Regions from separate parts of the Homo sapiens genome. Here regions 1 and 3 are each linked to region 2. Evidence: fine-mapped expression QTL. A gene starts in region 2. Each other region holds a variant in brackets. All regions are shown on one strand. Distances are from middle to middle. Region 1 overlaps LINC02884 (long intergenic non-protein coding RNA 2884). Region 2 holds the start of LINC02884 (long intergenic non-protein coding RNA 2884). Region 3 overlaps LINC02884 (long intergenic non-protein coding RNA 2884).

Region 1 (10,913 bases), 120 kb after region 2:
CTGAAAGAACCTTGGCTGCTAGGCCAGCCCTGGACCAGCCCAGAGCCAGGGGTAGCTTCTGAGCCAGGGATGGGAAGTTGCTACAAGCCAGAGTGTGTGGCAGCCTGGATGGTCAGGCTCTCTGCTCAGCTTCCCACTCCCCCAAACCAAAGCCACAGGCCTCTGGGTAGCAAGTAACCACCTGTGTTGCTGAGCACCACAGCTCTGGGCCCTTCTCCTCCACTATGGAAGAGGAAAGCAAGTGGTTCTGTATGTCTACAGATTTTTCTCAAAGAGAATTTTGCTGGGGAGTGGGCAGGGGAGGGGCCAGAGTAGAGCCATAGCATATATCTCTTTGTAGCCTAGGAAGAAGTTGAGCAAAAGAACCACTTTTCCAGTGGCTAGCCCGGTGGGGCTTCCATTGCTTTGTTCATTCGTTTGTAAATGTTTCTGGAGCACCTACTATGTGTCTACCACTGTGCCAGACCCTGAGGATTCAGAGATGGCTGTTGCTTCTGACGGGCGATGGCCCTGTTTAGTGCCTGTGGGTGTATTTTGCCAACTTGAGCTCATTCTAATGTGTACCATACAGGCTCTTACTGATATCAGGTGATGGGACTCAGCCTGCAGTCAGCCAGATTTTGTGCATGTGGGTAAAGAGAAGCAGGAGAGAAATTTCCTATTTCCTAGAAATTGTGTGACTCTGGACAAGCCACCTAGCTTCTCTCTGTGGCTTCTCTATCTGTGTGAAAGGTATACCTTTCCTTTGAGGAATTATAACTTTCCCATCCCATGGGGCTGTCAATCATGAGGCTTTGCCTCCTACATTGGAGGGCACTTGACACAGGCTGGCCAACCAGAGTACCCCATTCATCCATCTTGCACAATGATTCCTCTCAATGTAGGCATGGAATCCTGCCGGTGTCAGTGGGTTTTCTTCGACTGTTTCCCCACCTCCCAAACCGGCCTTTCTTAGTCGTCCTTATCTGAGTTGATGATAATTCTAGCATTCCTATTGCTCAGGCTCGAAATCTTGTAATCATTCTGGACACTTTTCTGTCAATCCACATCCCAGTCATTATTAAGTCATTTTGGCTCTATTTCAAAACATGCTCCAAATCTTACCACTGTCCCACTCTGGTGGAAGCCACCATGATCTCTGCCTGGGTTACTACAATAGTCTGCTAGCATCAGTCACGCCCCCTACAGTCAAGTCAGTTCCAGGAGCCAGTGTGAGTTTGTTGTTGTTGTTGTTGTTGTTGTTGTTGTTGTTGTTTTTGAGACGAAGTCTTGCTCTGTCGCCCAGGCTGGAGTGCAGTGGCACGATCTCGGCTCACTGCAACCTCCGCCTCCCAGGTTCAAGAGATTCTCCTGCCTCAGCCTCCCGAGTAGCTGTGATTACAGGCGCCTGCCACCACGCCTGGCTAAATTTTTGTATTTTCAGTAGAGACGGGGTTTCACCGTGTTAGCCAGGATGGTTTCGCTCTCCTGACCTCGTGATCCGCCCGCCCCGGCCTCCCAAAGTGCTGGGATTACAGGTGTGAGCCACCGTGCCACGTCTATTGTGAGCTTTTTAAAATGCATGTCAGGTCATGTCATTTCTCTGCCTCAAACTCTTCAGTGACAACCCATTTCCCTTTCTATGTGGCCAAAGGTATAATGCGCCTCCCAGTCACGCCCATTATTTCTCTGATCCTGTAATCTCTACTTCCTTCTCTCTCGCTCTGCTTAGTCACACTGATCCTTTCTTTGTGCATCCATCATGCCAGGCATACTTCCACTTCAGGCTCTGTGCATAGGCTGTTCCCTTTGCCTGAAATGCTCTTCCTCCACATACCTGCGTTGCACCCTCCTTTGCCTCCTTCAGCTCTTTGCTCCCATGCCAGCCACTTTCTCGGTGAGTTCTTCTCTACCCTCTACCTCCAATTTATAACATAACTCCTGGCACTCTTATCTCCCTTCCTTGTTTTATTTTCCTTGTGATTATCACTATGTTGCATACTATACATTTTACCTACTCATTTAGCTTTTTATTTGTTCTCCACCCTTCTTCCAATAGAACGTTTTATTCCATAAGAGCATGGGATTTACATTTGTTTTGTTTATGGCTGTATCCCTGGTGCCTGACCACGATAGGGGCTCCCTGCATCCTGTTGAAAGAATAAATAGACTTGACATATCGGCTCTGGGAGAGGGAGTCTCTGCTCCCTGCTCAGAATGAGGGCTTGGGGCTGTTCTCTCTCCCACTGTGTGGAGAGCACCTCCCTGAGTGTGTGTTCCCAGGCACAAGGAACGCAGATGGAGGCATCAAGTCCTCAAGACACAGCATGTCCTCCTGGACCTGGCCAGCTCCACCCTGGCTTCCCAATCCCTCCAGAAACCTCCTCTTTGGCATAGCTGGTTTGAGTTTGGGTTGATCACTTTCAACTGAATGAACCCTGGCCAAAAAAGTCTTGGCCCTTGGGAATCATGAGAATTTAGCCAAGTGACAGGGTCAAGACACTTGGAACAGGAGCCTGGCATTGAGGCAAGCGTTGGTATACATTCTGTGGAGTTCTTTCACCCCAGACAGGCAGGGTAGAGTATTCTGGCTATGAAAGAACACTTCTGAGAGCAGAAACTAAACTTCTTCTGCTCTGCCCTATGCAAATCTACTAAAGACAGACCTTCTCTGTCTGTTACTCAGGGCCATACAGGAAAGAAAATGCAGGCTGGTAGTTCTCACCTGATTCCAGCCCCTTAAGCCTTCCAAGACCACTGCAAGTGACACAGGGAGGAGGTGCCCTAGGCACATGAAAGACCTTGACCATGATGTCTGAAAACCTAAGCCAGGATCTTGGCTCTGCTATCCCAGCTGCATGGCCTTGAGCACGTCTCTGCATCTCCTTGGCCTCAATTTTTCTCATCTGTAAGGTGAGAGGGATGAAATAAATTACTCTCAAAGTTCTTTTCCACATAACATTCAATGGAAGCAGTAGAGCATTATGGTTAAATACGTAGACTCTGGGGCCAGGCTGCCCAAGTTCAGTTCTATTGCTTACTGCAAGCTTAACTTCTGAGCCTCAGTTTCCTCATATTAAAATGGAATACAAAATGATACCTACCTCATGGGGTGGTTATAAGAATTAAATGAATAGAACACATAGAGGGCACAGAAGTAAGCTAGGCATATACTAAGTCCTCAAAAATATTAGCTACTATTATTATTTACCATTATTGAAAGAATTTACCCTGGATCCTGGAATGATTTCTGCTTCATCTGTAAAGGTGACCCCTTCCAAAGGCAGAGCCCTTTTCCCAGGGGTTGCAGCTCCCCCATCTTTGCATGAGCACTGACCATTCTCTCCCTCTCCTGTAGTGTCTGGAGGCAGCAGAGTGCCCTGAGGGCCAGGAGTCAGCTTCCCCACCTCCGGGCTGAAGGCTGGGGCTGGCTTCACTCACTTAATTTGGAGAATTTCCATAGCCCTTTTAGCATATTTTGCTTGGGCTAGCTTATTTTCGCCAACCATACATCTTATCACTGTCATAAATTTTTATTCCTATGGACATGTCTAAACTTATGGGTTGAAATAACGTAATTTACATGCTGTTTAGTATGCAGATTGGGTTAATCTGCTTCTGCAGATTCACCACCAGGCCTGTGTAGCCTCTCTCTCCCTCCAGGACCTCAGCCTGATTTGAATATTGCATTCTGTTTTGTGTGGGGCGGTGAAAGATGTGTGGATCACAAGCCTCCCCTAGACAGCTCCAGCACCCCACTCCCTGCGCCTGCGGTCCACCCTGCACACAGCTCCCCCAGGCAGAGGCCTCCTTCCCACTGCATGTCACTCCCACAGACTCCCCATCTCAAGGCTAAAAAGCCATCAGCAACCAGGTGAGCTCTCTTTTGTCTTAGGCTGCATTCTGAGATGAGGATTTCAATGTGAATGAATCCAGGGGACATTGAACCCAGGAAGCACTGGCAGGTACAGAAGGGAAGAAAGCCAAAACAATGTGTCCTGGAGCAGGTTAACCCTGTGGGCATGTGGGCTCAGTCCCACTGGGGACTCCGGGAGATGGTTTTGAACATGACTCAGAGTTGTCCCATAGAAAGGGTGAAGAAGCCAGGGTCTTTATTCTTTAACTCCTCACCATCATTTGCTGGATCCATGGTCCTTATTCTCTAACTGCTTGCCATCATTTGCTGAGGGCTGTTGGCTGAGGGGTATTAATCCTTGCCCACCGCCCCCGTGCATCTGACCTGCCCCATGTGCAGGCTGAGGAAAGCCTTCAGGAAGGGGTGATAGGTGTTCTCAGAAGGACGTCATTGGCACTTACCTGAATAAAGAATGACAAGGAGATATGAGTGGGGTGCCCTGTTCATAGCCTCTCTTTCCCATTTTCAGCCTGATTCTCCCTCACTTCACCTAGGCTTTGTATCCATTTCATTTCCTCAAGGAGGCCTTTCCTAACTCCCCTATTTGAGACAATGCCTTCTCATGCTTTATCCTCCTTTACTGCTTGTTTTTCTATCTGTGTGTTTTTTTGTCTGAGTCATTTTAGTGTGGGAAAAGACAGTAAGCAGACAAATATTTAATATATCAGGCAGTCAAGGGCATGACAGAGAAAATTAAAGCAGGAGAAGAAGACTTAGGAATGTCATATGGGGATGGATTGCTATTTTATATGGGACAGAGGCGTGTGTCAAGGTTGTCCTCTCCAATAAGACATCAGTGAGCTGGGAGAGACCTTTAGCAAGTGAAGGAGTGAGCTGTGCAGAAGAGCTTTCCAGGCAGAAGGAACAGCAGGTGCAAAAGTCCCAAGGGGGACATATGTTTGACTCATTTGAGGCTAACATTGTGGGAGCACAGCATTTGAAGGGGAGAGGAAGGAAATGAGGAGGAAGATGGAGAGGAGAAGGAGAGGTAATAGGAGGTCTGATTATATAAGACCCTGGAGGTCTTGGTAAAGACTTTGGATCTGTGTGTTAGTCAGGGTTCTGCAGAGAAACAGAATCAACAGGGTGTATATATAAACAGACTTATTGTAAGGAATTAGCTCATGCAATTATGCGGTTTGACAAGTCCCAAGATCTGCTGTTGGCACCCTAGAGACCCAGGAGACTCAGTGGTGTAGTTCTAGTTTGCATACTGGCAGGCTGGAGACCTGGGAAGAACCAATATTTTAGTTTAAGCCTGAGGGGTGGAAAAAAGCCAGTGTTTCAGCTCAAAGGCAGTCAGGAAGGAGGAGTCCCCCTTACTTGTGGAAGGATCAGCCCTTTTGTTCTAGTCAGCTTTCAACTGATTGGATGAGGCCACCCACACTGAGAAGGGCAATTTGCTTTACTATCAACAGATCCAAATGTTAATGTCATTGAGAAACACCTTGACTGACACACCCAGAATAATGTTTGAGCAAACATCCGGGCTCTCCATGGCTCAGTCAAACTGGCACATCATACTCTGAGTGAGATTGGAAGACACTGTAAGTTTTACAGATAAGTGGTGTAATTTGACTTATGTTTTTAAAAATTACTCTGGCTGCTATGTGAAGAAAAGTCTGCAAGGGGCAAGGGTTAATCAGGGACAATTTTTCAGAAGCTATTGCTATAATTCAGGCAAGTGATGGTGGTGGCTTGGGGCAGGGAGACAGTGGGTGGAGGTGGTGAGAAGTGGTTAGATTCTAGATGTATTTTGAAGGGAAAACCTGCAGGATTCATTGATGGGTTGGAATGTAAAATGTGACAGAAGGAGAGGCATCAAGGATGATACCAACGTTTGGGGCCTGAGTAATCAGAGGGTAGGAGGTTCCATTAATTGAGATGTGGAAGACTGTTGGACCAGCTGGTTTGATCAGGATAAATCAGGTGTTAGGTTTTAAATACGTCAAGTTCAAGATGTCTGTTTATGTTTAAGCAAGAATGTAGAGCAGGCCATGGGATATGTTTGACTGGAATTCAAAACTCTGATGTAGTTTAGTTCAGTTTGGCAATCAATAAGTACTTCTTGGCCAGTCGCATTGCCTCACACCTGTAATCCCAGCATTTTGGGAGGCCAAGGTGGGAGGATCGCTTGAGCCCAGGAGTTCAAGACCAGCCTGGGTGACATCGTGAGACCAGTCTCTACAAAAAAATTTCAAACTTAGCTGGGTATGGTGGCACATGCTTGTAGTCTCAGCTACTCAAGAGGCTGAGGCAGGAGGATCACTTGGGCCTGAGAGGTCAAGGCTGCAGTGGCTGTGCCACTGCACTCTGGCCTGGGCAACAGAGAGAGACCCTGTCTAAAAAAAACAAAAACGTACTTCTTGAGTGAGTGATTATGAGACCAGTCAGATTTGTCCCATGAGTCTCCAATGACCTTCTGCATATCACTAATCCTTGTAGTCCAGAGAGGCCACCTCCAGCAGGTGACATCAGTCTCTGCTCTAGAACTAGGACTCATTAAACTGTTTGCCATGATGCTCTTGCTAATTATTTGACCTGGTAGAGACAGGTAGAATCTAGACAAG[T/C]GTCTTTCACTGGCATTGTAAGCTTTTAAAACATTCTATTGCTCCATTCCCAGATTCTGATTCAGTTGATCTGGGGTGAAACTTGTACATTGGTAGTTTCAAAAGATCCTCAAGTAATCCTCTGGATCCTAAAGCCTGTCCAGAGACTGAGAACTATTATTCTAGGGGTCTGCCTTAACTGACCTTCTGTACTTCACTGTTTGTTTGTTGTGACTTTAAAGAAAAAGTCAGCCCTTGGCTGTTCACGGTGGCTCACGCCTGTAATCCCAGAACTTTGGGAGGCCGAGGTGGGTGGATCACCTGAGGTCAGGAGTTGAAGACCAGCCTGGCCAACATGGCGAAACCCTGTCTCTACTAAAAATACAAAAAATTTAGCTGGGCGTGGTGGCAAGTTCCTGTAATCCCAGCTACTCGGGAGGCTGAGGCTGGAGAATCGCTTGAACCCAGGAGGCACAGGTTGTAGTGAGCTGAGATTGCGCCATTGCACTCCAGCCTGGGTGACAAGAGCGAAACTCCATCTCAAAAAAAAAAAAAAAAAAAAAAAGTCAGCTCTTTTGTCAAGGCTCCAGAAAAATTACAAAGTCTTAGAAAGGAGTGTTTGAAAAAAAATCCCACCAATTAGAAGAAGAAAAGTTCTGTGCAAAAAGATATTTGGTATAGCATTATTTTTAATAGTGGTAACTTAAAACCACCAAATGGAATATTATACAGCCAGAATCATTTTGTAGACAGTATAGTAACTTGCAAATATGTTATGAGAGAAGGTTAAGTAAAAAAGCAATATGCTAAAATGTGTCTACATTATGAGTGCAACCATGCAAACTTATGCATGCATATAAATAAAAGACTTTAGGGGAACAAAGAAAAATGAAAGCAGTTGATGTGTTAGTATAATAGTATAGCGGATGATGCTGCTTTCCCATTTAAATGACTGCTTTACTGTTGTTAGGGTGTTTACGTAGTGAGCAGGAGAAATAAAGAAATGGCAGTGTTGCTCCAAGCACACAGCCATATTCCCTGCCTCTCCAGGAAAGGTCCTTAGGTTTTATCTCACTATCTCTGAAACAGCGGGATCAACCTCTGGACTCACTGGGGAACCTATTCTATGTCAATTAGATGCCTAATGTATGCCAGCACTGTGCTAGCTACTGAGTTGAAACTGGGTTAGGGGATACATGAATCAGTCATTGTTCTAGAGGAGCTCACTGTAGAGATGGAGAAATTAATGTATTGTAAGCAAACCATTATAATAATTGTAAGATAATGCCATGAGTATGATGACAATGGCATGAACAAAGTTCTGTGCAAACTCAGTTAAATCTGCTCCAGGACCCCAGGGTGTTGAAAAGAGGAGGTGACATTTGATCTTAGTCTTGAAGTTAGAAAAGGGATGGGGGTAAGGGGAGTAGGGAGGAACAGATATTCCAAACAGAGTGTGTAAGGACAAAGAGCCATAAAAGGCATGGAGTGTTTAGAAAACGGCAAATAGGTTTGGATGGAATATTTATTATTTATTAATTTACTCAACAAGTAATTGTTGAGTATTTGTTGTGTGCCAGGTGTTGACTTAGATATTGGGAAGACCAAGAATTATGAACCTTGTCTATGCCTTGAATACTAATCATAATAATAGCAAATATTTATTGAGAGCTTACTAAATGCTTTATATGTATTAACCCATGTATTCTTCCTGATAACTGCTGGAGAGGGTACCATTCTTATTCTCATTTACAAATGATGAAATTGAAATTTAAGGTAAAAGACTTGTTCACAGTCACACATTTGTCATGCAGTGGCGCCCCTAGAGATCACAGTCTAGTGGAGGAAACAGACAAGGAAACATGAAAGCAGAGTGACAAGTCTAAGATGGAGGTAAGGGAGCTCTGAGTAAGGGCCTAGATGCTGTCAAAGTAGAGTTCTTGGAGAAGATGACTTAAGCGGAATCCTGGAGGATGAGTGAGCATTAGACATGGAAAGTGGGAGTGTGAGAAGGAAAGACAAGAGCTTTACAGTCATGATGGGTGATGAAGCTGGCGAGGTTGGTTGGGGCCAGTTTAGGAAAGGCTTGAACATCCTGCTACGGAGTTGAGCCTTTCTTCTATAAGTAATGATGAACTAACAAGCTTTTTTGATCTGTTTTTAATCAGGAGGCTGAGTGACTTGGGCAATGATTCAGCAATACCAACTGTGAACTCTCAATGACTTGGGCTAATGAGAAGAATGACATGGATAATCTAAAAATAATGGACAACTGGAAAAAACATCAGCCTGCTTGTGGAGCACACCAGGTCATGATTTCTGCAGTGGGGGAGGAGCTGATTTGCTTCATTCATTCTAGAACCTCTATTCTAGCTGATGTTAAATCTGGTTGTTTTTGAGAGCACTCATAGCCATCATGCCCATCTCTGTATCACAGGGGTTTGGGAAAAGAAACTCTTCTGGCCAAGGATGGAAGAATAAAAACATAACTGAGTTCCAGATATGCTAATGTTTTCCACTATTGCATCTCTAAGATATCAGTAGGACCTGGAAAGGTGGCAATGACCTCATGGCTCCCAGGTGCTGGGGTTGCTGCAATGGCTGGAGCTGAGAAAAACTTGAAGGTTTTAGAGAAGCTCTGCTTCCAAATGAAGGGTGCAGAGTAATTAATGCCCCAAGCTACATGGAGTGGCCAATTGAAGAAGCTATAAAAGTTGGAGCAGTGCAGGAAGCAACATGCCTGGGAAAGGGGATTTTTTTGCACTTTTTATTGCAATAATGCAGGAACATTCTATGAATAGAATCCAGGGGAGCCATCAAGTCCATGTTCGGGTGACTGTAAGGGGAGGGATTTTGATCCTCTTCCGAGACAGCTGTCTTCAGGCTCAGGCACAGATCACATTATTTTATTAGAGCCTTCAGTAGTTAAGAGAAAGTTCTTGGTTGAATTGGGAAAGGGACCTAAAAATAACTGTAAAATTTTGAGCTAGCTCTGCCCCTTTCTGTACTAGATACAATCCTGGATGTAGAGAATCAGAGACTTGAGGTTAAGACCTAGCTCTGGCACCAACTTGGACAAGTCACATCACCTATCTCCACCTATCTCCTTCACTGTGAAATGAGAGGATTGGAATAAATGATATCTAAATCTCCCCTGGCCTCCATTGTTTCTGCTTTGTGGATGCCGTTTTATGGATTGAGAAATCAAAGTCTATTGATGAAAATGATTGCAATGTGCAGATTCACTTGGAACACAGAAAGACTCAGAGAGCTGGTCAGTACCAAAGGAGGTTGGAGTGCTTTGCCTTGAATGCAAGAAATAACGATGTGCAATGTCATGGAGAATTTTAAAACAATAATAGATACAAGAAAAAGTCGGTCTGCTTTTTATTATCACCATGCACTGACAGTTCTAAGCAATGTCAGTGATAAAATATTCCTCACCTTGATGGACAACTCTCCCCATCCTCCATCCTTGGTATACCACTGTTTATCTGTACAATTCTCTTTTTATTCAATGCTCTTTCAATTCCTCTCACTACACAGGAAGAAAATCTCTTTAAGGAGCTCTTTTTTTTTTTTTAACATTTTTCTTTCTCTCTCTTTCTTTCTTTTTCTTTCTTTCTTTTTTTTTAACCACTTCTTAGCATTGATTTATCCCTAGTAAAGAAGAATGATGAATTACTTTGAGTTACTTCTTTAGTAAGAAAGGTATGCTATAGGAGAGAACTGGAAAGGGACCAAGGAAGCAGGGACAATAAACATGGAGAGACCAGAATATGGAATGAGGTGTGGAATGGGTACAGAAGGCTGGGTGGCTTGTGGGTCAAGTCCTGAACACATGGCTTGTGGACAGGGTGTGGACAGCTCCCTGAAGGCCCAGGTTAGGTTGGGCATGTGGTGCATGAAAACAGACCCTGCCTGCCTCTCAGCTCAGATTTCTCAGATTTCCAGCACCCCGGCCCTTTCCTGGGGCTTCCCCTTGCCTCCCCTCAGGTGGATTTCCTAAGAGTGAACCCTCTGTACTACACCTGCAGTCACACCACTCGCCATCCTTCTCTGAGTTGGATTTCCTCTCCACCCTGCCCTGGTGTCTAGAATATGAAAAGGCTTTGCCACCCTGGGGACTTGCATATCCTGCATTGGTGCCTCCCTTTTGCAGGCCTGGCCCCCTTGGTGTTCAACCTTCTGCGAGCTAGCACCTGCTGCAGGGTGCATTTGCGTGCTCCAAGGAGCCATTCCTGTGACAAAATAATCTATGCACATTCTTTGGGGGCTGAATGGGCTGCTCTGGAGAACAACAGAGGGGACCCCCAGAAAAATATGAGTGTGGTGGAGGAAGAGGCTGAAGGCAGGGTGTTAACCCTAAAGATAGAGATCTTTGTCCTCTCAAATTAAATAAGAAGTTTTGGGTTTTTGTTTGTTTGTTTGCAAAGTGAGAACCCAGTTAGTAGCAATTAAATTGACAA
Region 2 (8,000 bases):
GGTGTAACTGACATACAGTAAACTACACATAAAGTTTACCATTTCATGAGTTTAAAACACATCCCCAGAATCGTCTCCAAAATCAAGACAGTGAACATACTCATCATCCTCTGGAGTTTCTTTGTATCCCTTTGCCATCTGTCTTTCCTACCCACTTTGCCCCTTTCCCCCAGCCTCAGGCAACCACTGATATGCTTTCGGTCACTATACATTTGTTTGTATTTCTAAAAATTTTATATAAATGGAATCATATAATATGTACTCCTTTTTTCAAGAGTCTTTCACTTAGCATAATTACAGACTCATTCACATTTTTCTGCATATCAATAGTTCATTTTTTTAATTGCTGAATAATACTCCACTGTATAGATACACCACAATTTGTTTCTCCATTTTACAATGAATGGGCAAATGGGTTGTTTCTATTTTTTGGCTATTACAAATAAAGTTGCTATGATGAATCTTATACAAATCTTTTCTGAACTTACGCTATCTTTTCTTTTGGGTAAATACCTTGGAATATGTTTCGTATGTGTTTAACTTTTAAAGAAACTACCAAACTGTCTTCCAGAGTGGTTGTACCATGAAAGTTCCACCTGTTTCACATTTTTGCCAACAGTTGTATGGCCATTTAAAAAATTTTAGCCATTCCAATAGGTCTGTATGGTGCCTCATTATGGTTTGAATTTGCATTTCCTTAATGACTAATTATATTGAACCTCTTTTCATGTTCTTACTTTCCAACTATCTTCTTTGTTGAAGTGTCAGTTCAAACCTTTAGCTCATTTGAAAAATCGGTTGCTTTCTTTTGTTGGATTTTTAGAGTTTGTTATATTTTCTGGACATAAGACCTTTATCAGAAACGTCTTCTGCAAAGAGTCTTTTCAAGTGTGTGGCTTGTCTTTTCATTCTTTTAGCAGTGTCTTTCAAAGAGTAAAATTTTTAATTTTGATGAAGTCCAATTTATCATTTTTTTCTTTTATGGATTGTATTTTTGGTGCCTTAGCTGAGAAATTTTTACCTGAAACTCAAGTTCACACAAATTTTTCTTCTATTTTTTAAGAAGTTTTATAGTTTTAGGTTTTACATTTAGATCTATGATCTATTTTGAATTAATTTTTGTATGTAGTAAAATGTGTGGATTGAAGTTTATTTTTATTTATTTTTAATTTAATTTAATCTTTTTATCTTTGGCCAGCCTCTTAAGCCAGAGCATGCTCAGAGAGACTTCTTATTTTTATTTTTGATAAGATATCCAATAATTTCAGCACCATTTGTTGAAAAGTTATCCTTTCTCCACTGAGTTGCCTTTGCAATTTTGTCAAAAATCAGTTGTATATATATGTGTGGGTCATTAGTTCTTTTTTTTTTAAAGAAGACATGACCATTTCATAAACTTAATGAGCCATATCAGTTGTTCATTATGAAGACGTGATGCTTCGTAGTCTTGGATCCTTTCTTGAGGTTTGTGGTTTAATCTAGTTTCACAACTTGGACTAGGCACTGGCCTCAGATCAGGATAGAATTATTCCTATAAGGCCAGATAACTTTTTTTTGTTTTAGAGGGTAGAATTAATATTTGTTTGTCATTTATAATCAGATGGCAGCTGGGTATACAGTCTCCATACTTCATTTTTTTGGTAAATAAAAAAACTACAAGTTTTAAATAGCCAATGGCTCATTATGTTTTCAGACAACATGATTAGACCAATTTATTAATGGTGGCTTCAAGTTTTTCCTTATTAGCTCCAAAAACTGGAGCCCACCCACCTTTCATTCCTTTTTAAAAAACTGGAAGATGGCATGCATTTCTTCATACTCTGAAGCAAACATCCTACCCTGACAATCATCCACATCTGCCTTGAGGAACACCACGCTGGAATACTTTTCAGCAAGGGAATGAAAGAAGGGCTTGATCATTTTGCAAGGCCCACATCATGTGGCTGAGAAGTCAACTACAAGTTTATTCTTGTAGCATCCGAGCCTTCCTGAAAAGCAAACTTGCTCTTCTGCTTCACCACTTTGACTGTTGGGGTCTGATGACTGACTGTAAGAACCGATGGAAATGGATCCAAAGTGCTGGACCAAGCTTTGGCCAGAGGACCTTTGTCTTTTGGATTGTCCTCTAAGCCCTGATGTTGAACTCATTTTCTAACAGGAAGGACAGACTAGTATTTCTGTTTTCTGGTTGACTGATCTGTTCTCCTGATTGTCCTTAATGCCACATCTGGCTTTTCACTGGGTCACAACTAGCTGTGTTCTTTTCTCCCCTAAACGAAAGCTTCAGTGACTTTAGTTAATCTCGTCTCTGTCCTGAAGTATCTGAAATATGAGCCTCTTAGACCAAAGATAGGCAGTTTAATATTATCAAAGACCATGGACGTGGGGGGGAGGAAATCAGTCAAAAGTCACTTAATAAGCCACCTTAATTGAAGTGGTTTTGTCTCCTTAGGGAAATGTAAAATATTCAACTCAGCAGCTTAAAAATGTTTTTATTGAGATATAACTCACATATCATAAAATTTACCCTTTAAAGTTGCACATTTCAGTGATTTTTATTATATTCACAAAGTCGTGAAACCATCATCACTATCTAATTCCACCCTAAAATAAACCTTATACCCATTAAGCGGTCACTCTCCATTTTTCCCTCCTCCCAGCCCCAGGCAACCACTAGTCTACTTTCTGTTTCTATGGATTTGCCTATTCTGGCAAATTTAACATAAGAGGTATCATACAATATGTGGGCTTTAATATCTGACTTCTTTATTTAGCATAATGTTTTCAAGGTTCATCCATGTTGTGGCATGTATCAGTACTTCATTCTTTGTGGCTGAATAATATTCCATTGTGTGGATATACTTCATTTGGTTTATCCATTCATCAATTGATGAACATTTGGGTTCTTTCTACTTTTTGGAAATTATGAATGATGCTTCTATGAACATTTGAGTATGAGTTTTTATGTGGACACAAGTTTTCAATTTTCTTGGATATATACCTAGGAGTGGAATTGTTGGGTCATATGGTAACTCTTTATTTAACTTTTTGAGGAATTGCCAAACTGTTTCCCAAGGCAGCCATACTGTTTTACAGTTTTACCAACAATGCATGAGAGTTCCGATTTCTCCACATTCTTTTCAACACTTGTTATTGTCCATTTAAAAAATTATAGCCATGCTAGTGGATATAAAGTGATGTGTCATTCTGGTTTTGATTTGCATTACCCTAATGACTGATGATGTTGAACAACTTTTCATGTGCACGTTGGCTATGTGTATATTTTATTTGAAAAAATGTTTATTCAAATTCTTTGCCCTTATTTAATTGGCTTGTCTTTTTACTTTCTTTGTTATTATTATTATTTTAGAGATGGGGTCTTTCTGTGTTGCCTAGGCTGGCCTTGAACTCCTGGGCTCAAGTGATCCTTCTGCCTCAGCCTCCTGAGTAGCTGGGATTATGGGTGCTGGCTTATTTTTTCACTTTCTTGATAGTGTACTTTGAAGCACAAAATTTTTAGTTTTGATGAAGTCCAATTTATATATTTGTTTCTTTTGTTGCTTATGACCATCTGCTTTTTAAATTAAACTCAGAAATCCTAAAGCTTTTCCATTAAGCACAACAAATAATAAAACTATATATCTTAATTCCATGTTGTAGCAATTTAAGGGGGTGGAATTGACGTCAGGGAGAGGGAGAAGGTGGGGGTAGACTCTTTACTTGGACTTTAGACCTCAAAGTCTGAATGTTAGCAACTGCCTTTGAGCATTGAGCACATAATCATCAAGGATAACTAACTCTTTGGAAACTGCCTTAATCACTAAACCTTCAGTAGCTTTCTTCTGGAAGGGGTGAAGCCCCTGCTACCAAGAAGGAGCTCACTCTCTGCACTGCAGCAATGTTACCTAAGGACAAGTGAAAATGAAGATAAAGTGTCAGAAAAAGGGAAAGCTTTGCAGTCAGGCTGTTAGGAGTCTCCACTGGGTTCTCTGGAACTAGATGCTGCAACAGAGGTAGAAGTGCAAAGGGGAGGATCACCTGTGAGTGGAAAAGGGAGGAAGCAGTTTGGCCAGGAGGAGCTCTTGGCTTCTGATGCAGACTTGACAAAGCCTCTGCCAGTCTAACAGGGTGCTCTGAGCAAAAATTGCTTGTTAGAGGAGTTCCGCATTGGTAGAAGAGGGATGGGCCTTTGTACTACCACCTTGCTCAGCCATTGGCTAGGGGCTGCCTTAAGAAGAGAGTGACTGTGGCTTAAAAACTCAGGTGGTCCTTGAAGGAACTAATTGCTGGGGGCAAATAAAACCAACATTCTTGGTAGCAGGGGAGTGAGTCCTTTATTGAAGGGGCAATGTAAGCATGGCATCTCTGTGTCTGTCTACCACACAGACAAACATGAAGTTCAAATTCCAACAACATGTGACCTTAGGCAACCACTCTGCCTCAGTTTTTTCATCTGTAAAATGGAGAAAATGCTTTCCTTACAGGGTTGTGGGAGGATTAAATAAGACAAGAATGAACATAGTGCCTGATACAGCACAGGCATTCAATAAGTATTAGTTCTTCCCTTTCCCCCAGATGAAAATAAGCCAAGGGAACATTCTGTTCTGCAAACCAGTTCCCACCCTGCTCTTTCTAAACTTCATTTTCTTTCAATTTCCAGTAGGGGACCAAGCCTCTGCGGCAGTTTCCTGATCTTCTGGATATGCTGCCACGCTGTCCCAGGGCTGGTGGTGTCCCCTGACTTGTTCCTCTCCTGACTTTCTCAGCCTGGAGACTGAAAGCTCTCTTTGGCTGTTGGCCCTCCCAGGCAGAGTCCACTGGCTGTTAGGGTGAAATGGGGCTGATGCTTCCTGGAATCCACCAGAAGTATGCAAATTGCACCATCTCTTTCAGCTGCCTGCGCCTGCATTCCATCGAGGATTCCGGTAAGAAGAAACCATCCTGTTCCTCTTTCTAAGTGCCTCATTAAAGCTGGAGGACAAATTCCTCCTGCTTCTCTTGCCCTGGGAGGTGAGACAGCACCTGAATGGGAAGAGGAGGTTGTGCTCCGCGTGACATCATCCTTCATGGGGTACTCTGACCACAGGGACACTGGTGTCCAAGGCCCAGGTACTTCCTGTGTGCCTGATTCACTGGGGAGTCTCAACTCGTTGGGGTATAAACATGAAAAGATTTTATTTCTTCCAGTAACTGCCCTGGCTGTGCTGTGCCAGATCTCTCTTTCCTGCTGAGGAGCCGCTCCCTTAACGACATCTTGGTCTGGTTCCATAACTTTTCAGCCACTTTCGGTTACTATAACAGTCTCATTCCAGTAATTAAGACTCAGCCTCTTATATTTTTAAAACTTTCATTGCAAACTCGATTCAGAGCTCTTCTCTCCCCTTCCCTCCAGCACAAGTGAGAGTTGGGTCCTGGTTGTTTGGAGCAGTGGAGGGGAAGTAGGGCCTGGCTTGAAGATGCCTCACCTCCTCCCTCTTTGAGGCCTCAGCATCTGTATTTGGGCAGAGAGGAGGGATGGAGAGTAAGAGACCTCTTTACAGGAGTGTCCTTTTCCCCTTCCTGTTCTTTGTGGCTCTGTTAGATGCTGAAGATCTCACCCCACCCTCCTCCATCACTGAACACCACCCTTTCCCCCTCCTTCCCTCACACAGATGCACCTCTCTTTAGCCTCAACAGTGGTACAGGTGCCCAACGACCCTTTGTTGACTTGGCCATGGGTACCTGGGCAAACCCTCAGCTCCTGCCCTTCCACTGACTTCCGTGCATCTCCATGCAGAGCCACAGGGCCTGCAGGAATCCTCTCCCATAATCCTTCAAGGGCCCCACAGACCTGGGAAGGGAGAGCTGCCCCCATCTTCTTCCCAGTCATGCTGCCCCAGGGTCCTTCGAGCCCTGCCGGATGGGCTACTGTAGTGGGCCTCTTGCTTTCAGAATCTCCCAGACTCAGATGGATACCAGTCTCTACATTCAAGTGCAGTCCCAGCCCTCAAAGTAAGTTCATCAGGCATCCTGCTTTTCCTTCCCACAGTGGGGTAGGTGAACAACAAGGGCACTGGGCTGCAGTCCTAGGCTTCCAGGATGGCAAGGACTCTGACAGTGAGCTGTGCCTCTGAGGCATCAGGGAGAGTCTGGATTCCCTCTCCCCTCACACTGGGGCAGGAAAGCACCCTTATCATCTCCACAGGGGCGTGAAGGGTGACTCTTCCTTGATCTCTCTCAGTCCTGCTCCTGACTGGACGTGGGCTGGGTGCCGGTCCATTTAGAGGGTGCTGGTGCCTTGAACAGCAGTGTGTGGAGGTGGCTGGCTCCATCTGCTGGCGGCTTGCTGGTAATTCTGTGGGGTTGCTTGGCTCCTCTTGGCTGTGGGTCTAGCATAATGGGGACACACGCTAGGACATGCACAGCTGCAGGCAGTGCTATCCTGTCTCTTCTCTTTTAACCTGTGTTGAAGTTGTCCTTCCTCCTGAAAGGATTTCTTGATTAATTCCCACCATTTGACATGCTCCTTCACTGCACAACCTCAGCGCTGAGACTCTCAATTGGTAGTAAGTTCATGTGCCCGCAAGTGAAATGTCTCTTGAGTAGTTTTCATGTGTTTTGAGGATAGTTAGTGTTTATTGAGCTCTTCCATGTGCCATCTACTGTCCCAAGCACGTCACATACTTCATCTCATCTCCTCACACCACAATCCAATGAGCTAGGTACCGTCACTGTCCCCATTTTACAGATGAGAAAACTGAGATAGAAATGTTAAATAGCATCTCTAAGGTTTATAGTCAGAAAGTGATGTAAAGAGGCACGCTGAACTCGGAGCTTCTACTCTCTACCGATACTCTGTTCTGCCTACTTGGTTTCATACTGTGATCCCTCTGCCTCCTCACCTCTCCTCATCCCTTACCCTGAAAGCCTTAAATAAGTATATGTGGTTCACAGTGAAGTACTCCCCATAATATTTTTTTGTTTAGACTAACGGAATCTTCCCATTTGGGGCTTGTGCAAGAGCTGAACTAGCCCTGGTGAGATTGTGGTCAACTTACAAATGGGCCAAGCTGTGTGGTCATGTTGAAGTCATTAGCACAGAGCCTTTGGACACAAGGACAAATCCTGCTCTAACATTTTAGATTAATTTTTTCCCAGGGAGGCCTAGAATCTTGACCATATACTCCTGAGAAATACTTTTCATCTGAAAAATGAGAATCTCTATTGTTTGCATAGTGCATTTACTTTCATTGTCTCCTAGATATATTTGCAACCACTCTGAGCAGAGGGTGTTAATATCACTCTTGTTTTATGGGTGAGGAAACGGAGGCATGAAGGTTAGCAACTTGTCTGAGGTTACACAGCTTGTATGTGCTGGAACTGGGATCCACAGCCAAATCTTCTGCCTCCCCCCTGTCATGCCAAAAGGGTACCCTTACTGCCATTTGCCAAGAGCCTCAGGCTCCTGACTCCTTGCTATGGGCTCTGTTCCTCAGTGGGCATTTCCTTTCTTCACTTTTAGCCATGTCCATGGCCCTTGATCCTATCTCTTCTTCTAGCCTCCCCCCACTGGTTTTACCCACATCCTCTTCATCTTTCTCAAGGGCTGGTAGTGCCCCTTGGAGTAGGGGGACCCGACCTTGAAGCTTTCTCACTATGTCCCCCAAGGCCCTGAAGGGGCTGTTCATTGCCTTTATCGGCTCTAGTCATGGCGGATGTTATTTATTGTCAGATAAATGTATTTCCAAACAAAACAGAAAACGAACAAATAAACACAGTGACAGAGCTGTAAAAAACCCTGCCGGCTCGCTTACTTGTAGAAAAGCCTGCACAACTAATTAACCCGGGTAGACCTCTGTGGTGTTTGGAAACAAGCTTGGAATTAATATCGCCGTTCTCAGCTGCTGGAACCAGCCTCTAAATCTTTATTGGGTAGTAGCAAGAGAGAGACACAGAGAGTTATAGAGACAGTAAGAGGCGAAGATGGAAGGAGATAGAGTGACAGAGGAAGATAAACGCAG
Region 3 (10,913 bases), 110 kb after region 2:
ATTGGTGGCAGCCCCTTTTATTAAGTAAATTTTTGTTTCTTTCTTACTCTGAATATGACCTATTGCTTTCTGATTTGTCGGTAGGAGGATCCATTCTAGATGACAGAACAAGATTACAGTTCAACTAGAGGCTTTTATTAATAGGTTAGATCTGTGTAGGCAACTGATTGACCATAAAACAGATGACATCATGGTGTTGAGCTGTATGGTTTTCAACTATCTGTCACAGTCATCTCATCTGGTATTCATAAAAATTTGGTGAAGGAGAGGGCAAAGAATCTTAAGCTCATGGAAGGGTGCTGACTTTGCTGTGGTACTCAGCAGATAAGTGGCAGATCCAGGAACTTGGATGCTCAATGCTCTCATATGCCAGTGTCAGTGGCTAAGATGGAAACATCTTTTATTGAATATCTTTCAGTACAACCCTGCTAATGAGGGGAATGAACAAAGTGGCTTTGGAAGGGCTTGGTCTCTATGTTGTTAATTATTCAAGGCAATATACTTAGAAAAAGGATGCAGGATTCTGAGAATGTAATTGTTAAAAGTCCTTAAGAACCCTACAGACTATAGGTATCTGGCCAATCAGGTTCTTTCCAGCCCAGGACTGTAGCCATTTGGCATCTTCTTCAAGTGTACATGACTAAGAATCAATGGTGATGAGGTTCTTTCCATTATATCTCCTTCATTTTGCAGAGGCTCAGGCATAATAAATGGGATGGAAATGTCTGCCAGATGAAAATTAGGACTATTTGCCATAAACACGTCTTTCCCCCACCACTCTCTGCCAATATAGGAAGAGATCCAGAAAGAGAATGAAGAAATGAGTGACTCAATTCAGATGCAACAAGAAATAAATTTCACAAAGTCTCCTTCTCTTCTTGTGCTTTTCTAGCAGCTGGATTCTTTTTGGGCTTGACTTGTGGCAGCACAGCTGTTCTAAATTTCTGGCCATTTTTGTATGTCTTAGAATCACTTTCTGCATAGTTCTTTTAGAATTTACTCCTTTATACTTATGAAATTAAAACATCCTCATTAAATTATGAACATCCATTCAACTCTCATCCATCCAATCATACCACTGCTCATCTATTTAATTAACCATCTGTTTATCCATCCATCCATCCATCCACCCATCTGCCCATCCATTCATCTAACAAATTAGCACATAAAATCACTGTATTAGGTGCTGTGGGAGACTCAAAGACCACTAAAATGCAGTCTCTATGTTAGTCAGGGTACAAATCAGAAGACAGAGATCACTTTAAGTATTTATAACAGTGAGAATTTAATACAAGAAACTAGTAATAGAAGAGTTGGGAAGCCAAACAGGAAACTGTATGGGAATGCAGAAATCAGCAACCCTTGGAAGACACTACCACCTTAGGTTGGGGAGACAAAGGGAGGGTGAGATGTTACCAGAGCCCAGAGGTTGAGGTCATTAGGTGGAAACTGGGACCATGGCGGAAGTGTTCAGTGTGAACTTGAACCAGGGTAGATGTGTCTAGTGGGACATGGAGGAGTCACAGCTGCTGAAGAGGCAGTAGTTGAAACAAAGAGGGAGAGGGAGAAATATCCTGACTTCTCCATTCCTCCTCACCTCTAGTCCTCTGAAAGTACCTCCCACTGGCTGAATCCAGCCAGAAATCTGGGAGATGCAACTTGCATGGCCCAGTTTCCCCTGTCCTCACCATAACACAGAATAGAGCAAAGAAAGGGTGAAGAATGTATCTGAGGGTAAACATGTGCAGTACTAGCACAGCCTCAGTTCAAGGGTTGGGGAAGGAGAGTCCAGGATCTTTCTTTGCTCAAATGCTAGTAAAATCTCTCTGATTTTAGAATAGCTTCATGAAGGAAATGGGAACTTTGCTAAAATAACCCAATGATCCTTTTAGGAATCCAGTAAAACACTGAGTACTCTTTCCAACATGACTACCCTCTGGAAGGGCTGTGATTAGGGACTTTTTTTTGTCCCTAGGGACAGAGCATAGTGGTCCTTCTGCCCCATGCCCAGTGCCCAGTAAATGTTTGTTCATGATGCTTGGTCATCACCTACCACACCAGGCCCTGTGTATTCCACATTCCTGTCAAACCAAATCACTCATACTTGTTTATATGATTTTGCATTGGCTGCAGCTGTTCTCTCTGCTAGAAGATTCTCATGCCTCTTGTCTCCTTGGAGAATTCTTACTCATCCTTTGATAACCAGATCAAGTGTCACATCTTCTGTGAAGACTCCTTGGGTCCTGCCTCTATGTTCCTCTAGCAGTTTCTTCATCTCTCCATGACTGCACTCAGCATCATGTGCACTAGTGGCTAGTTGTCCATGTGTCGGTCTCTTCTACTAGTCAAGAATTCCTGGGGAACAGGGACCATGTATTAACCACCTCTCACCCACACAGAAGTATAGCACAATGTCTGGTACAGAGTAATTAATAAATTTTAGTTGAAGGATTGGACATATCATCATTGTCTATGTGCAAAAACATGTAGCTGGCTAATTAAAACCTCTCTCCTCTGAGGCTCTCAATCCTTCCTACCTCCCTCAAGGGTGATGATGATTAGTTATTGAGGTAACTAGGGAGGTTGACCAAGTGAATCTCCAACCCTGGCTTTCCCATGCATGAGACCCTAGAAATACCGCCTGGAAAGAAATTCCTAGAGAAGGTGGGTCTGAGGGCTGTGAGCTGTTACTGGTACATTCCTTTTGATGTTTTAGAAATGTGTCTTCTTAGTCCAGCCCAGCCCATCACAGCTAAGCAGAGTTTTTGTCTGTTTTGAACAGCTCACACAGGTTTTTAAGCTTGATCTTGTGGGTGCATTTTTAGATATAGGAAACAAGATCCTTTCTCCCTTCCTCCTCTATATTTTATTCATTTTTTTTTTCCCCTGCCAAATGATAGACCTCCTCTGCCTGCACTTGGCTTTGGCCAGAACTTTGGTGTCTTGACCTGCTCTAGTGGAGAAAAGCACTATTGGGTTGTCTCTTTCAGGGCACCTGGCCCCTTTCTGAGTCCTACAACTTTTGAGCTCATTGATTGATTCTCATTCTTCCCCATGGCACTCCCACAGCCAAGGGGGCAGAGGATCTGGATAGGAACCTCCTATTGTTCAGGTAAAATATTAATATCAACAACGACTAACATCATTCTTCTTAAGAGTGTCAATCTTTTCTTTTTAACCTTCAATGCGTTCTCAGATAGTTCTGTAGAACAGAAGGAGAAGCTGGTAACTGTCAGCCACTTTATGGTAGATAAATCGAGGCCGGGAGAAGAAAAAAAATCACAGTAAGAGGCAGTGAGCAGAACCAGATGATGAGGTGGGTTCCTGAGTCTCAGCCCACGGGGCCACCTGTGTTGTGGAAAAGTTAAAAATGTACCTGGAATTGATCTCAGGTGCTGTCAGGCGAGGAGCCTGGACCCAGACACAGGACTGGGGAAGAGCCCTTACCTCAGCTGGTGATGGAGTCAGGGGACGGGGTCCTTCTGAGGTTTCTGCACAGCCCCTCCTCCACATCTACCTTCTTTCGCCTGCTGGTGAGAGGTGGGAGATGAGTAGTGAAGCTAAGATTGTCACTGGGACCAGATAATGACAATCTTAGCTTCAGATTTCTCTAATCTTGGTCTTATTTGTGTTTGTGGCCTTGGGCAAATTATATCACTAAGTTGGATTTCGCACCTGTAAATGGAGAAAATTCCTACCTAAAAGCTGTTTTGAGGGTTAAATGAGATAGGGAGTTTAGCCATGTACCTAGCACATAGTAAATATCAAAGAGGGAGTATTTATAATGATGATGATATTTGTCATATCAGCTCACTCCCTCTCACTTGTCCCTGGCCCTTTCCTCAGCTTTGGGGCTGGGCTTCATCTGCAGCTGCTGCTGGGCTGTCTTCTTTGTCATTTCAGGCCAGTCATAGAAAGCCTGCAGCTCCTGAGCTCAAACTCATGGGTTTCTTCCACGATCTTTTGTTTCCTAGTCTCTCTCCCTGTAGTTTCCAGTTCCCAGTTACAGGCAGACCTCCTGGGAAGACGGTTGAGAGGAGGAGGTCTCAGGAGTGAAGGGGGAAGGCTGGGCTCTGTGGACAACGGCAGGAGAGGGAAAAGGATAGGGTTATTCAAAAGGAAGGAGAGGCCCAGGGTCACTGTTTTGAAATGAATGTGTGTGTGTATGGGGTAGAGAGAGGGTGTGGTAAAGATGGTAAGCACTGTTGCTCAGTTAACTTGGAAATAAGAAAAAGCTACCAGAATCTTCAGCTAAGCATTAAAACAGAAAAGGATCATAGAGAATGGAGTGATGAGAGAACAGCTAGACCCAATCTCTGGAAAGTGTAAAGCAGCTGGGCCCAATTCCAAGGCCTATTCTTCCCATACCTTTTCCTTTTGGGGGTGCCTCTGCCAGCCCCCACCACCTTCCAGTAAGTTCTGCTCCTAATATTGTAAATTGCTCTGATTTCCGTCTTGGTAGGAATTGACCTCACTTTCATATTTTCCAAGGGTACTTGTCCTACAGAGTGTCTGGCTCCAAGCACCAGGCCTTCATCATTATCTCCCACAGTGGGGCTTCAAGGTGGCCCTGGCTGTGCTCTCTTTATGTGATTTCCTTTTTTTTTTTTTTTTTGAGACAGAGTCTCGCTCTGTCACCCAGGCTGGAGTGCAGTGGTGCGATTTTGGCTCACTGCAACCTCTGCTTCCCGGGCTCACGCCATTCTCCTGCCTCAGCCTCCCGAGTAGCTGGGACTGCAGGTGCCTGCCACCATGCCCGACTAATTTTTGGTATTTTTAGTAGAGTCAGGGTTTCACCGTGTTAGCCAGGATGGTCTCGATATCCTGACCTCGTGATCTGCCCGCCTCGGCCTCCCAAAGTGCTGGGATTACATATGTGATTTCCTGAGAATCTCTTTATGTGATTTCCCTCCTGGGCGTAGGCTCAGACACTCACTTCTCTCTGCCACATCCTTGTGCCATGTACTATTTCCCTTTTTCACTTTTATTCCTGGGGTGGTTGGAGCTGGGCTTTGCTGCTGAGCAGGCCTGGCCTTCACTGCTCTCTGGGGAAGGTCAGATCTGGCTGCCTGTGGACATTTCCGGGCCATTTGACAAATGGGTCCATGTAAATGGGGGTGGCAAGTGGCTGGCAGGGAGGGCGGGGATGAGATAAAAGGGTGGCTCTCCTTGCCCTCACTGAAAGGTTTGGAAATTCCACAGTCATGGATTCTCCTCCCTTTTCCACTCCAGTCCTCAGCTTTCTTTCATCATTGTCATTTCCTCTCTGTTCCTCCACTTCCAGCAATGACTTAGTGGCTCTCAGAATAACAAGTGTCTTCAGGGATGCCTACAGCTAGAGAAGTTTGGCGTCTTATGATCTCTAGAACATGCCCTTGCAGGGACTCCAGATGTTGGTGAGCCAAGATACCC[C/G]CCGATGTGTTCTTTGAACTGGATCCCAGCCAGGGTTGGGGAAGAGGCAGGGTTGCCCTGTGCAGGGCTAGGGTGGAGCAACATATCTGCAAGATGATGAATCATGCTCCTGGACGCTGGCTTACCAATCCTTTGAGAATGTCTGAAGACAGAGGGTTCTTGTTTGGCACTATATATACGTTGGCTATGGAAATGGGTGGAGGAGGTCACAGCCTGGCCCATTTATGTGGCAGTGTCCACACTTCTCCCTAGATTGGGCTGCTCGGATATGCAAATATCTTCAGGGCTGTCCGCAGTATCTATGTTTTTTTATGAAACAGCATGTTTCACTGGCATGGATACTCAGGAACTAGATTTGAACTCACCCATTGGTCTGCACTATTCTATAAAGATCTGAGTTTGTAAATCTATTTCTAAAAACATTAGGCCTCTTCCCCAATATGTCCTCAAGAGTTGTGCTGATCTAACCAGATCCATAACCCCTGGGAAGCTCCCAAATTTGAAACATCACTAAAATCCATCCAAGGATCAAAAATCTGAGTCTGCGAGCAAGAACTTCCAAATGAACTGGCATCTTGTCTGGTAATACACAAGCTCTGGACCTATGAAAGAAGGCAGAGTGCAATGGGGCAAGACAGTGGATTTCCCTGGGTTCAGGTCTGAGATACTCTCAATGGTTCAGGGCTCGAGCCACATCTTGGGACACAGTACGACCCTGTAGGCTTGGGCAGACACTGAACTAGACCCATTTGTGGGGAGGGGCACATCTGGAGGAAACAACTGCTGTGAGTAAGTACCTGAGGCAGGAAGCAGTGGCTTCATCCAGCAGTCCGCATGGGTAAGGATGTAGGGCAAGGGAGGGGACAGCTCTGGTGAGAGGCCTTCTGAGAGGTGGGTTTCACAGAAAGACAAGGAATCCAGCTCATGTGATTCTTGGAGGCCAGACAAGCATGTGGTTGTCATCAAGTACATTTCCCTACGTTGCTTCTTACAGCATTTACTTATTTATAACACTCTGTCATCTCAAAAGCAATCTCATGTGGCTTTATTATATAGATGTTATTAAAATTGTTCTTGAGCTTTAAATCATTAATGTGAAATGCCCAGTATAGACTGGGATTGCAAAAACAACTATAAATAGATCCATAAATTGAACCAGAACTCTATTTTTTAAAGCTTTTAATTTTGATATAATTTCATATTTACAGAAAAGTTACAAAAATGCCACAAAGAATTCCTGTTTAGCCTGTACCTAGGTTTACCAGTTGTTTTCATTTTGACCCATTTGTTTCATGATGTTATTAGGTACTCTTGAAAGCCAAGGGCAACACTCTAACTCTCAGGCCCAGGCTCAGGAAATGGGTGGAAGAGGTCACAGGCTGGCCCATTTATGTGGCAGTGTCCACACTTCTCCCCAAATTGCGCATCCTCAGGGCTGTTCACACTATCTCTGTTTTTTCATGAAGCAGCATTTTTCACTGACATGGATACTCAGCAACTAGATTTGAACTCACCCATTGGTCTACACTATTTTATAAAGGAGGGAAGTGTTCGGGGGTTAGAGGGGACATGTGATCAGAGGCGAGGTGGTCCTGGAGAGACAGGGGACAGGGCAGGTCAGCAGAGTAGCAGAAAATGTGCTGAGGCAGAAAATGTCACTGAGGCAATTTTCCAGAGGGATGGGGTCACTGAAAGATCAACATGCCCAATTCTAGCTCTGTGATCTTGAACAAAGTGCTAAACCTTTCTGAGCCATTATTTCCTCACTGGTAAGTAAAGAGATTAACATCTACTTCGTTGGGCTTTATGGAATAAGCTGGTGTGTGTAAGGTATCTTACAGTGCCCAGCTCACAATGAGTGCTCAATCATGGTAGTTTTTAATAATGATGAAGATGACGATGGTTAGAATAATAAAAAGAATACCTCGTGAGGTGGAGATGGGAGCCAGAGGCTGGGACCAGCTTGATGCAGCAGGTGGGTTGCTGGTTTTGCCTGCAGACCAGGGAGGAGCACACAGACCTGGATCCCAGGCGGGATTCATGGTTCCCTGGGCATGATGGGGAAGCTGCTGGCGTGGGGAGGACCACGTGAAGAATTCTTCAGCATGAGAGAGCCAAGTTCCTCTGGCCAGGCTCTAGAGGTTGGAGATCTTGGGTAAGAAAAAATTAAAACTGACAGCCATAGAATGCCCCTCTTTTGGCCTGAGGAAGGATGAATTGAATATTTGAGATGCTGGAAGCCCTCCTACATGGTAAGTTCAAAGAACTGAAAGTGTCTCGCTTCTCTGAGGATTCCAAACAGACTTTGCTAAAATGTAATTAAGTTCCAAGTCCCTGGAAATCAATCATGCTCCCAGGAACTAATACCTTGGCTTGTTGATTAGAAGTGAGGGGGAGCCAGGGGCAATTACTCTCTGAGAAGCAAATTCTTGGCTCAGAGATCCAAATGCTCAGAGATCCAAGGACAGAGAGCTGAGGGTGGGGGTGGAGGGTGGGAGTGGGGGTAGGTGTGGAAGTGGAGTTAGGAGAAAGGGTGATGAAGCAGTCTCTGGGAACTGCGGCTAATTACACATGACCTGTTTCTTTGGGCTAAAGTTCTTCATTGGCTACAAAGCCCATCTCCTGATCTATACTTGAGTCTCAGGAGCTTTTCTTTATATTGGGAAGAGACTGAATAGAAGTGATCACTGGATCGCAGGGCTCAATGAGGCCAGCAGTCATTATTTAATGCGTTTCGCTCCTGCCAAGCCAGAGGGAGAGCAAGTGGAGAGACAAGACAGACTGCCAGTTAGCCCCTTGTTGAGAGGCTCCTGAGTGCCCAGCCCTGCCCTGGGCTTGGTACTTGCTCCCAGAACTTGACAAGCATCCCTCTGAAAGGGGTAACACTGATCAGGAATGCAAGAGCCCTGGGTCCAGCCAGAGTTCTGCCTTGAACCAACCACATGACTTTGGTCCAGCTGGCCTTCTGGCCTCAGTTCCTCACCTATAGAATGAAAGGTTTGGACCACACAATCTGTAAGGTCCCTTCCAGCACAGACACTCTTCTCTCCAATTCTTTGCCACAGAGGAGGGGATGGAGGACGGCCTGGTGGTTGAGAGCCAGGGTAAATGCAGAGAGAAATCGGAGAGAGAGAGTACAAAGAGATGAGTTAGATGCAGTAGAGATGATGGATTGAGGGTTGAGGACTGTGTACAGACTCAGAAAACTCAGTCTGCATAGCACATGATGCTGGCTCTGCAGCTGAGGCTCCTGGAGGGCTGAGAGGACAGCAGGGGAAGGGGAGTGAGTCCCATTGTGACCTGAGTACTGATCAGCCTGGTGCTAGATCTCTCAAACTAGAAGAGCAGGCCCAGCTTCATTCAGACCCAGGCCGAACTGTCTGAGCTGCCCTTCTCCAGCTCATGCCTCTGTATCTGGACATGCTGTGGGGAGTGAGGGTAGAGAAAAGGAGAGGAGGGTAGTCAGAAACCCTTTCAGAAGCAGTGCCTCAGTGTCCTTCTTCTTTTGGGGTCTAGGGCAGCTTCAAGTGGGCTCCAGATCTAAAGCCTGCTGATTGTCCATGAGCGGCCTGTGGCAGGGCAGCCCGAGGCAGAGAAAGAGACTAGGCTCAGAGGCAGAGGCTGAGCAGAGGCTGCAGGATGGGCCTGAGCCTAGTGTCAGTGGTGCACCTGACCCAAGGCATCTGTGGACACTTGGCTGTCTATGATCCAAGGCCTGGGCTGGACGGGCCTCAGAGGGTGTGTGTGAAAACACTGGGAGACACTTCAAAGCCCTTGCTATAAACAATGTGAAAAGAAAATCACCATTGTTAACCTTCAAGCCTGGACTCCTGAGCTCCTCTGTCTCCCTCAAGTGGGTTGGCCCCATGCCCTTAGGCAGAATGCAGAAGGCAGCAGCTCCTGTCTCTGAGAGTTTTCGTTCTGGGGTTTCCTCCAAAATTTTGGGCTGGATATCCCTTTGCAGATGAAGCAACTGAGCTTGTCCCACTGAAATGAGTGGCTCAGGGGATTGGTTAAAAGCAGGGACTTGGGAGTCACAAGGACTTTGGTTTGAATCCCAGATCACCCACTTATTAGCTGGGTGACTTAAGGCGATTTCCTTATAATAGGAGACTCATCCTCTCATCTGAAAAATGAGGACAAAACTAATATCCTCCTCATAAAGCTGTTGTGAGGATTAAATGGATCATCTATGTAAAGAGCTTAGCACAGTATCCGGTTCATAATAAGAGGCTGTTAATACTACTGCTACTACTACTATTATTATTATTATTAAGTTCCTGGCAGAGCCAGACCTAGAATTCAGGTCACCTTACTCTAGGTAAGTGCTATTCTGTAACTTCACCTTGGCCTGAGCTGTTTTGGGTTCCTCAGAGGCAGGGCGATGATTGAGATGAACTCTGGACCTTTGAGCTTCAGAGCAGTTCTCCTGGTGTCTGCACTCAACTCTACCTGGGTAGTTCTATATCCCCTACTTCCATTTCCCCACCTCTCAGAGCCATATATGAGTGGGCTGAAGGCCTTCTGACCTCCCCTTTCACACATGGCAGCTGCCTCTCACTGGGCACACCTGAGTCTTTCTCCTGACCTGCTGTTTGTTCTGGGCCATTGAGGGCTGTTTGCTTTCCTAAGCCAAGCTGCCAATGGCCAATTTTCCATGAATCATAATCGCCTTACCCCATTAGGCAGGATAATTAAGATAGGATGGTGGGCCGTTTGCTCAGCACACACAGGAATCAACAGCTGTCCTGGCTCTCCAGAGAACCCCAGTATCTGTCCACAGCTGCAGCTGCCTCTCTCCCCATGAAACCTGGCATCATTCCCCCACCCTGGGGGATTGGAGGGGGTGGCAAACTGTCTACAGTCCCTGGGGTCCTTCAGGGAATTCCACAAGGTATTACTGAGCACAATTGCAGGAGATGAGCTGCCCAGTTTGCTGAGAGCTGGTTGTAACTAACATTTACTGGTATTAATTTACATCCATTGAATACCTCCTGTGTGCCAGGCCCCATGCTAAACATATTACATAGATGATCTCATTTAATCCTCACAACAGCCTTCTAACATTGCTATTGTTATTAACCCCAATTTACAGATGAGAAAACTGAGGCTGTCAGAGGTTAAATAAAGTACTCAAAGATAGAGCTGGGATTTGAATTTTGGCAGTCTGACTCCAGAGTCTACGCTCTTAATTGCCTCTTCTTTGTCTATGTGTAGGAAGTACAAATGTTAAATAGTTTTTCTTCTTTTTCACCATTTTCCTAAATAGTATTTTTATCTACAAATTCCATTCAGGCAACTCCTGCCTTGGAGGGCATGGTGCTGAAACCTTGGTTATTCTGTAATTAACAGAAGGTTACAGATCCCCTAGCTCCTTGGTTATATCCTGAAGACAGTTAAATGAAGAAAGCTAAAAATGTTGAAGGAAAAATAATACTGTGTTATGAAACCAAAGAGAAATCACTTCGAGGTATGTGTTGTTTTTGGATTATCCATCAATG

What was found.
Region 1: its variant is fine-mapped to the expression of LINC02884 in whole blood (INTERVAL, PIP 0.99).
Region 3: its variant is fine-mapped to the expression of LINC02884 in whole blood (INTERVAL, PIP 0.99).

What each region holds. Positions count from the first base shown.
Region 1 is chr1:112,232,599-112,243,511 of GRCh38, reverse strand. It overlaps LINC02884 (long intergenic non-protein coding RNA 2884), which reads left to right. Exons shown (of 2, transcript NR_183466.1): 2 at 8,613-10,913. Among named protein-coding and RNA genes, the nearest start is that of LINC02884, 120 kb to the left of the region's middle. The variant T/C (reference allele first, on the strand shown) is at 6,466.
Region 2 is chr1:112,357,287-112,365,286 of GRCh38, reverse strand. LINC02884 (long intergenic non-protein coding RNA 2884) reads left to right here and starts at 4,680. Exons shown (of 2, transcript NR_183466.1): 1 at 4,680-4,925. It also overlaps the pseudogene TXNP3.
Region 3 is chr1:112,246,525-112,257,437 of GRCh38, reverse strand. All of the region lies in intron 1 of LINC02884 (long intergenic non-protein coding RNA 2884), which reads left to right. Among named protein-coding and RNA genes, the nearest start is that of LINC02884, 110 kb to the left of the region's middle. RefSeq lists an enhancer at 4,964-6,163. The variant C/G (reference allele first, on the strand shown) is at 5,413.